2 linked regions of the Homo sapiens genome follow. The protein of the gene in region 2 purifies or fractionates together with the protein of the main gene of each other region. This does not show direct contact. Each region holds a gene or a part of one and is shown on either strand. Other genes may lie near its edges.

What was found. The genes of interacting proteins can lie anywhere in the genome.
Region 1: the proteins of CACNB1 (region 2) and CBARP purify together in Homo sapiens (co-immunoprecipitation; 3 studies listed by BioGRID and IntAct, with this or other methods). This does not show direct contact.

What each region holds. Positions count from the first base shown.
Region 1 is NC_000019.10:1,235,206-1,239,441, reverse strand, and holds the start of CBARP (voltage-dependent calcium channel beta subunit-associated regulatory protein), read left to right. Parts: upstream 1-1,436; 5' UTR 1,437-1,686; intron 1,687-3,320; coding exon of another isoform or gene 3,321-3,341; coding exon 3,342-3,446; intron 3,447-3,523; coding exon 3,524-3,663; intron 3,664-3,876; coding exon 3,877-3,941; intron 3,942-4,051; exon of another isoform or gene 4,052-4,130; intron 4,131-4,236. UniProt on the Homo sapiens protein: Negatively regulates voltage-gated calcium channels by preventing the interaction between their alpha and beta subunits. Thereby, negatively regulates calcium channels activity at the plasma membrane and indirectly inhibits calcium-regulated exocytosis.
Region 2 is NC_000017.11:39,187,183-39,191,591, reverse strand, and holds part of CACNB1 (voltage-dependent L-type calcium channel subunit beta-1), read left to right. Parts: coding exon 1-118; intron 119-3,990; coding exon 3,991-4,113; intron 4,114-4,409. UniProt on the Homo sapiens protein: Regulatory subunit of L-type calcium channels. Regulates the activity of L-type calcium channels that contain CACNA1A as pore-forming subunit.

The DNA of each region.
Region 1 (4,236 bases), on a different chromosome or scaffold from region 2:
TTTAGGAGACTGAGACAGAAGGATCTCTTGAGCCCAGAAGTTCGAGACCAGCCCGGACAACATAGCAAGATTCCATCTCTACAAAAAAAAACAAAACAAAAATTAGCTGGGCATGATGGCGCGCACCTGTAGTCCCAACTACCTTCCGGGCTGAGGCTGGAAAATTGCTTGAATCCGGGAGGTGGAGGTTGCAGTGAGCCGTGATCACACCACTGCACTCCAGCCTGGGCGACAGTGCGAGACTCTGTCTCTCCAAAAAGCAAAACCGAAATACAAAAAACCCTGAAGCCTGCCCATGTCATGGTCCTGCTGGGAACAAGACGATTTCTCTGCTTCCTTCACAGGCATTGACTTGCAAACTTTTTTGCCTCAAAACCTTTGCCCATGCAATTCCCATTTGCCTGGCACCAGGTTCCCTGGGGCTGCCCTTGGAGTTCACAGCTATCGGAGTGGTGGCCCCACAGCACACAGGAACAGGCAAGGCGCAAGGCATAGGGCCTTGGAGGGACGTAGCAGAGGAGGGGACCCAGGCATGGGCTGGAAGCCAAGAGCAGAAGCGCCGAGACTGTGAAGCTGGGGAAGGAGTTGAAGGAAACCGGGGTGAATCTCTGGCTGCATGGACAGAGGCCTGGGTACAGGGCACCTGCAAGGGCAGAGGCGGGGAGGCTGAGCTGGGCCAGCCACGTGCCAGAGCGGTGTCAGCCTTTCTTTGGGACGAGAAAGAGGAGGCGCTGTGGGGTGTTAGGCGTGGGCTCAGAGGGGTTGGGGTGGCGCTCGGGCCAGGCTGGTGGCAGGTGTGTGGCCTGAGTATCTGCAGGATGAGGTTCGATGGTCTAAGAGGGAGAAGCGGGGGCAGCTTTGGGCTTTGGGTTTCTGCGGGTGTCGTTCTGATGTCACCCCACGAGGAGCAGGCCTCTGTGAGTGCACGTTTGGGCCCCGATGGGCTCTGCTCAGCTTTGTGCCGGGGTCTGTGATCGCTGTCACACAGGGGAGGGGGCAGGAGAGGCATGGCGAGTCCTCCACAGTGCCAGAGGGGACCTGCGTGGGGAAGCAGGCGGGGCGCCTGTGTCCAGAGACCCTGGGCTGTGCAGCTTAAAGGGGAATTGTGGCCGAGGGGCCCTGGCTGTGCCGCCCCAGAACCCCCACGGACCAAGCAACGTGAGAGGGGAGTCCGTGCCCCCCCGGACCCCACCCCCTCCTGCGCACGCGGCGCACCTCGGGCTGCAGAGTCGTGAATTCCAGGACACCCCCAGCTGCGTCCCTGGGACCTCAGGACCGGGCGAGGTGAATCGTGCCGATGGGCCGGGGGCGGGGCTCGGCCGCCGCGGCGGGTGCGGGGGGCGGCTCCGCGTGCGGAGTGGGCGCCCGGGAGCGCAGGCTCCGCCCCCCGCCCCGCCGGAAGGGAAGGGGAGGCGGTGGCCGGCGCGGAGCCAGCCAGACCCAGCGGCGAGCGCAGCGGGGGCGGCGGGCCGGGGACCGGGCAGCACCGGGCGCGCGGAGCGGGCGCGCCGCCAACGCGGTCACGTGCGCGGCCCCTCCTCTCGCGCCGGCCTCCCCCGCGCCGCGCTCTCCATTCATAAATTCTCCGCCTGCTCCGCGGCCACCGGGCGCCGGAGCCAGCCGCGAGCGCCACGCAGCCGCCCGCCGCCAGCCCGCCGCCCATGGGCCGCTCGTCCCGGCGCTGAGGTAGGCGCGGCGGGCTCGGGGCTGCGGGGGGCGGACGGGGGACAGGCCGGGGATCGCAGCCGGCTGTGGGCTAAGCGGCCGGAGGGAGGGCGCGGAGGAGTCCGGCGGGCGTGGGGACCGAGATCCGGGCCTTGCGCCCCCCACCCGGCTGCCTCCAGAGGGACCCCCGCTCAGGCCCCGCCCCAGCCTCAGTTTCTCCCTGTGAGGTCGGGCGAGGACGATGGCGTCTCGGCTCAGCCCTGGCGTCGGGTCCCTGCCTCCCCTGGCTCGCCATCCCCACCCTTGGCCGGCTCGGGGGCGCGGTGCTGCCCCGTGGGGAACCTCCGCCCTCGGCTCCCGCAGCCGCCTCCCCCAGGAGCCCCCCTCTTCCCCTCGGCCTCCTGCCATCTTCCCCGGCCTCCGGTCACCATCCTGCGCCTGTCCCCACCCCCTCCAGCCTGAACTCATTTCCCGACCTACATATGCGGCCCCTTCCCCCAGTACCAGGGCCCGGGCAGCCTGTGACCGGGAGCGCTGAGGACACCAGCCCCCGCCGGGACCCTGCCCGGCTTTGGGCCTCAGTTTCCCGCTGTCGCGTGTGGGCGGAAGTCCGGGAAGGGCAGGAGCGGCTGCCGCCTGTGCGCTCCTCTCGCTCCGGGAAAGGTCTCGCGCGTGCGGTGCTGACCTGGGGCCGCCGAGCACCCCGGCGCCAGCCCCGACCCCCTGCGATTCCCGGGCCTCCCCACCCGGCTGCGCCGCACAGCGTCCAGGCGGCTCCTTTCCCTGGTGCCGCGCCCCGCCTCAGTTTCCCCCGAGCGTAAGGCGGCCGGGGATGCTCCGGGCGCCCGGGCTGGGCACGGCGGGGAGGCGGCCGCGGCCATCTTGCGGCTTCGCGCCCGCCCCCCCGAGGCCGCCGCCCCCCCCCAGGCCGCCGCCCCCGCGCCCCCTCCCCGCCGCTCCCTGGCAACCCGCCCCCCCAGCCGCGGCCTGCTCCGCAGTCGCCATGGGAACCAGCTTCTCCGGGGCTGGGAACAGATGCGCCTTCTTTGTCCCTTGCACTCCCACCAGCACTCAGCACCGGGGAGACCTCCACCTCCCGGAGTCGTGACCCGGGAGCACGCGCCCAGCCCCTGCACCCTCCCTGGCGCGCAGGCAGCGGGAGGTCTCCCTCTACCCAACCATGGCCGGGTGGGCCCTGCCAGGGTGTAGCTGAACTTCTTGGGGTGGGGGTAGCCCCCCACCCCCGTGATGGGGCGGACAGGGCGTCTGGAGTCCTTCTCGAGCCGGCTGCACCGCCTTGGCGTCCCCATTCCTCCGAGTGCTTGCCCTGCCCAGCGCTGAGCTCCAGGGCCTGGCGCTACCTTGCAGGACAGGCCGCACCGGCTGTGTGCAGTTGTGATGGGTACAGGCGCACCCTCAGAGGGCCAGGCCTCCTCCCCCGCCATGGGGATGGGAGATGGAGGTCCAGAGAGAGCCCCCGGGGCCCGCTGGGCAGAGCCAAGCCGGGTGGAGGCTGCCTCCGGCTCTGCTACCTCTCCATGAGTCACTGCCCCCTGTGTGGGCTCCTGCTCCTGCAGGGAAGACCCAGCTTGTCTGCAGTGGCTCCTGCAGGAGAAGTAGGTCTAGCTGGAGCTGACCAGGCTTCCTCCCCACAGGGCCCTCCTCCCCAGTTCAGAATGCAGCCCACAGCCACCATGGCCACAGCCGCCACCACCACCACCACCACCACTGCCACAGTAGCCCTGACGACGTCGTGGGACAATGCCACTGGACGCCCCACGGTGGGTGCAGGGGACAGGTGGGAGGGGCAGGAGGTCGTCCAGGCCAGCAGCACCTGACCCCCCCTGCACACCCGCAGGCAGAGCCAGACCCCATCCTGGACAACTACGTGCTGCTGGTGGTGGTGATGTCGCTGTTCGTGGGGGGCACGCTGGTGGTGTTGTCTGGCGTCCTGCTCCTCTGCAAGCGCTGCTGGGACGTCCACCAGCGCCTCAACAGGTGCGAGGCCCCCACCTCGGCTGGGCAGGTGCATGGTGGTTGTGGGTGCCATCGGGTGGTGGGGGGTCTACCTCACTGGCTTCTGAGTCACAGGGTGGGCTATGCCTCTGGAGACTGGGTGATGCGCAGGGCTTGGCTTGGGGCAAAGAGCCGAGACCCACTGTGGCTATCTGGGCCCTCCGTGCCACTGGGCTCTCCCAACGTCTCTCCCAGGGCCATGGAGGAAGCGGAGAAGACCACCACCACCTACCTGGACAACGGCACCCACCCAGCCCAAGGTGAGGTGCTGGCCAGCCTGGCTGTGCGCTCGCCTGTCCATCCGCCCCTCGGCCACCCGCCGCCCCCTCGGGCTGCCTGACCGTCTGTGTCTGTCTGTCTCCCCCACCAGACTGGGCGCAGCTCGATTCCGACTCATCTCTGTTTCCTTAACGCCCAGGCGTAGGTGGGCCCAGGCGCGTGCTGAGCGAGTGAGTGTGTGAGCGGATGGACGAGTGTCCCTCGCCCCGCCAGCCCGGCCGCCCGTGCCGCGGCCCCAGCCCTCCCTGCCGTGGCCGCCCGGAGGAGCAGCCCTCC
Region 2 (4,409 bases):
CTCAGCGGAGTCCTACACCAGCCGTCCATCAGACTCTGATGTATCTCTGGAGGAGGACCGGGAAGCCTTAAGGAAGGAAGCAGAGCGCCAGGCATTAGCGCAGCTCGAGAAGGCCAAGGTGAGAAAGATGTGGGGAGGGGCTGTGCTGGCATGATTTCCCCCAGTCCTGGGCTGTAGAGAGAGCCCAGACAGAACCAGGGCCAAGTCTTGACCCAGCCACTTCCTAGTACCCCTGAACCTTGCTCCTCTGTCCTTCACCTGCACAATGTGGGCTATAATACCTGCCTGCTTATACAGTATAATAAGTATAATAAGTGCGTGTTATTATACTGTTTCCACACATAATAAGGGCTTGATAAGTGCTAAAAATTTCTTTTTTTTGTTTTTTGAGTTGCAGTCTTGCTCTGTCACCCAGGCTGGAGTGCAGTGGCATGATCTCGGCTCACTGCAAGCTCCGCCTCCCGGGTTCACGCCATTCTCCTGCCTCAGCCTCCCAAGTAGCCGGGACTATAGGCTCTGGCTGCCACGCCCGGCTAATTTTTTGTATTTTTAGTAGAGACGGGGTTTCACCATGTTAGCCAGGATGGTCTCGATCTCCTGACCTTGTGATCCGCCCCCCTCAGCCTCCCAAAGTGCTGGGATTACAGGCGTGAGCCACCGTGCCTGACCTGGTCCTGACTCTTAATAGCTGTGTGATCTTAGGAAAGTCACATTAAAAGGAAGATAATAATACCACTTAACTTCAGAGGATTTTTTATTTTTGTGATGAATATAAATGAGAGAATATGTGTTAAGTGTGTAACATGGTACCTGGAACACTAAATGGTCATTACTGTCATTATTGTTTTTTTTAATTTAATTTTAGGCCAGGTGCTGTGGCTCACGCCTGTAATCCCAGCACTTTGGGAGGCCCGGTTGGGCGGATCACTTGAGGTCAGGAGTTCGAGACCAGCTTGGGCAATGTGGTGAAACCCCGTCTCTACTAAAAATACAAAACGTAGCTGGGTGTGGTGGTGTACGCCTGTAATCCCAATTACTCGGGAGGCTGAGGCACCAGAATCGCTTGAACTAAGGAGGCGGAGGCTGGAGTGAGCTGAGATCGCACCACTGCACTCCGGCCTGGGTGACAGAGCGAGACTCTGTCTCAAAAAACATAATAATAAATAAATTTAAATATTTATTATTTTTTATGAGACAGGGTCTCTCTCTGTCACTCAGGCTGAGTGTAGCGGCGTGATCACAGCTCACTGGAGCCTTGACCTCCCATCTCAGCCTCCCGAGTACCTGGAACTATAGAGGCATACCACCACACCTGGCTGATTTTTTATTTTTTGTAGAGATGGGATCTTGCTATGTTGCCCAGGCTGGTCTTGAACTCCTGGGTGCAAGTGATCCTCCTGCCTCGGCCTCCCAAAGTGCTAGGATTACAGGCATGGGCCACTGTGCCCAGCCCCTTTTATTTATTTATTTATTTTTGAGATGGAGTCTTGCACTGCCGCCCAGGCTGGGGTACAGTGGTGCGATCTCGGCTCACTGCAGCCTCCGCCTTCCAGGTTCAAGCGATTCTCCTTGCCTCAGCCTCCCAAGTAGCTGGGATTATAGGCGCCCGCCACCATGCCCGGCTAATTTTTTTTTGTATTTTTAGTAGAGATGGGGTTTCACCATGTTGGCCAGGCTGGTCTCAGAACTCCTGACCTGGTGATCTGCCTGCCTCGGCCTCCCAAAGTGCTAGGATTACAGGCGTAAGCCACTGTGCCCAGCTGCCCCTTTTATTTTTTAAAAACCGACAGGGCTGGCTGGGTGCGGTGGCTCACGCCTGTAATCCCGGCACTTTGGGAGGCTGAGGTGGGTGGATCACCTGAGGTCGGGCATTTGAGACCAGCCTGACCAACATGGTGAAACCCCATCTCTACTAAAAATACAAAACTAGCCAGGTGTGATGGCGCATGCCTGTAATCCCAGCTACTTGGGAGGCTGAGGCAGGAGAATTGCTTGAACCAAGGAGGCAGAGGTTGCAGTGAGCCAAGATTGCGCCATTGCACTCCACCATGGGCAACAAGAGCGAAACTCCATCTCAAAACAAAACAAAACAAAACAGACAGGATCTCCCTATATTGCTCAGGCTGGTCTCAGACTCCTTCCCTCAAGCCAGTATTGGGATTACAGGTGTGAGCCACTGTGCCTGGCTGCTATTATTATTATTATTATTATTTTATTTTATTTTATTTTGAGACGGAGTCTTGCTCCATCACCCAAGCTGGAGTGCAATGGCACGATCTTGGCTTGCTGCAACCTCTGCCTCCTAGATTCAAGTGATTCTCCTGCCTCAGCCTCCTGAGTAGCTGGGATTACAGGTGCGTGCCACCACGCCCAGCTAATTTTTATATTTTTAGTAGAGACGGGGTTTCACCATGTTAGCCAGGCTGGTCTCGAACTCCTGACTTCATGATCCACCCACCTTAGCCTTTCAAAGTGCTGGGATTACAGGCATGAGCCATTGCGCCCGGCCTATAACTATTATTTAATTAATTTATTTTGTTTTGTTTTTGAGACGGAGTTTCGCTCTTGTTGCCCGGGCTGGAGTGCAGTGGCACCATCTCAGCTCACTGCAACCTCCACCTCCCAGATTCAAGTGTTTCTCCTGCCTCAGCCTCCCAAGTAGCCAAGATTACAGGCATGTGCCACCACACCATGCTAATTTTGTATTTTTAGTAGAGACAGAGTTTCACCATGTTAGTCATGGCTGGTCTCGAACTTTTGACCTCAAGTGATCCACCTGCCTTGCCCTCCCAAAGTGCTGGGATTACAGCAGTGAGCCACCGTGCCCGGCCTGCTATTATTATTATTTTTTCTGGGTATCATTGTGGGCTTCCCCACCCCCAACCCTTTTCATTCCTGAGTGCCCCGCCTCTACCCTGAGAGGGCTGAATTCCACATTTTGCTTTCTTGTTTTTTATTGTAAAAGTTAATATACATGGAGAAAACCACACAAGCCAATTCAGTATACATTTTTTTTTTTTGACGGAGTCTCACTCTGTCATCCATGCTGGAGTATAGTGGCATGATCTCGGCTCACTGCAACTCTGCTGCCCTGGTTGAAGTAATTCTCCTGCCTCAGCCTTCCAAGTAACTGGGATTACAGGCATCTGCCACTGCGCCCAGCTAATTTTTGTATTTTTAGTAGCGACAGGGTTTCACCATCTTGGCTAGGCTGGTCTTGAACTCCTGACCTCATGAATCCACCTGCCTCTGCCTCCCAAAATGCTGGGATTACAGGCGTGAGCCACCACGCCCAGACTTTTTTTTTTTTAGACAGAGTCTTGCTCCGTCATCCAGGCTGGAGTGCAGTGGTGCCATCTTGGCTCACTGCAACTTCTGCCTCCTGAATTCAAATGATTCTCATGCCTCAGCCCCCTGAGTAGCTGGGATTACAGGTGTGTGCCACCATGCCCAGCTAATTTTTTTGTATTTTTAGTAGAGGCAGAGTTTCACCATGTTGGCCAGGCTGGTCTCAAACGATCCACCTGCCTTGGCCTCCCAAAGTGTCAGTATACATTTTGTTGTTGTTGTTGTTGTTTTGAAATGGAGTCTTGCCCTGTTGCCCAGGCTTGAGTGCAGTGACACAATCTTGGCTCACTGCAACCTCCACCTTCCAGGTTCAAGCAACTCTCCTGCCTCAGCCTCCTGAGTAGCTGGGATTATAGGCACCCACCACCACGCCTGGCTAATTTTGTATTTTTAGTAGAGACGGGGTTTCACCATGTTGTTCAGGCTGGTCTCGGACTCCTGACCTCAGATGATCCACGTACCTTGGCCTCCCAACGTGCTGGAAATACAGGTGTGAGCCACCACACCCTGCCCATGTCCATACACATTTCAAGGAACTATTATAAAGTAAACATCCAAGTAACCACCACTACTGTCAGGAAGTTGTACATTACATTGTGGTTTGCCCTCTAGTTGCCATCCTCCCCTGTGTGCCTCCTCTAGACCAAGCCAGTGGCATTTGCTGTGCGGACAAATGTTGGCTACAATCCGTCTCCAGGGGATGAGGTGCCTGTGCAGGGAGTGGCCATCACCTTCGAGCCCAAAGACTTCCTGCACATCAAGGAGGTGGGTATCTGGAGGGAGGGCAGGGAAGTGGGTGCCAGGAGACAGGCAGCCAGAGTGCTAGTGGACAAAAGGCTTCTGAGCCAAGCAGAGCCAGGCTGAATCTGCTGTGTGACCTTAGACAAATCTCTCCACCTCTCTGAGCCTCTTAATTTTCTACTGGAAAAATGAGGTGGTAATGCTTAGGTCAGAAGGTTGTTGGGAGGGTTTGTTAGGGGGCCTGAACTGGCATGGCGGTGTGCCAGGGACATGTAGGTATCCGCATTTACTCCAGCGGCCTTTGTAGAGTAGGGTGGGCA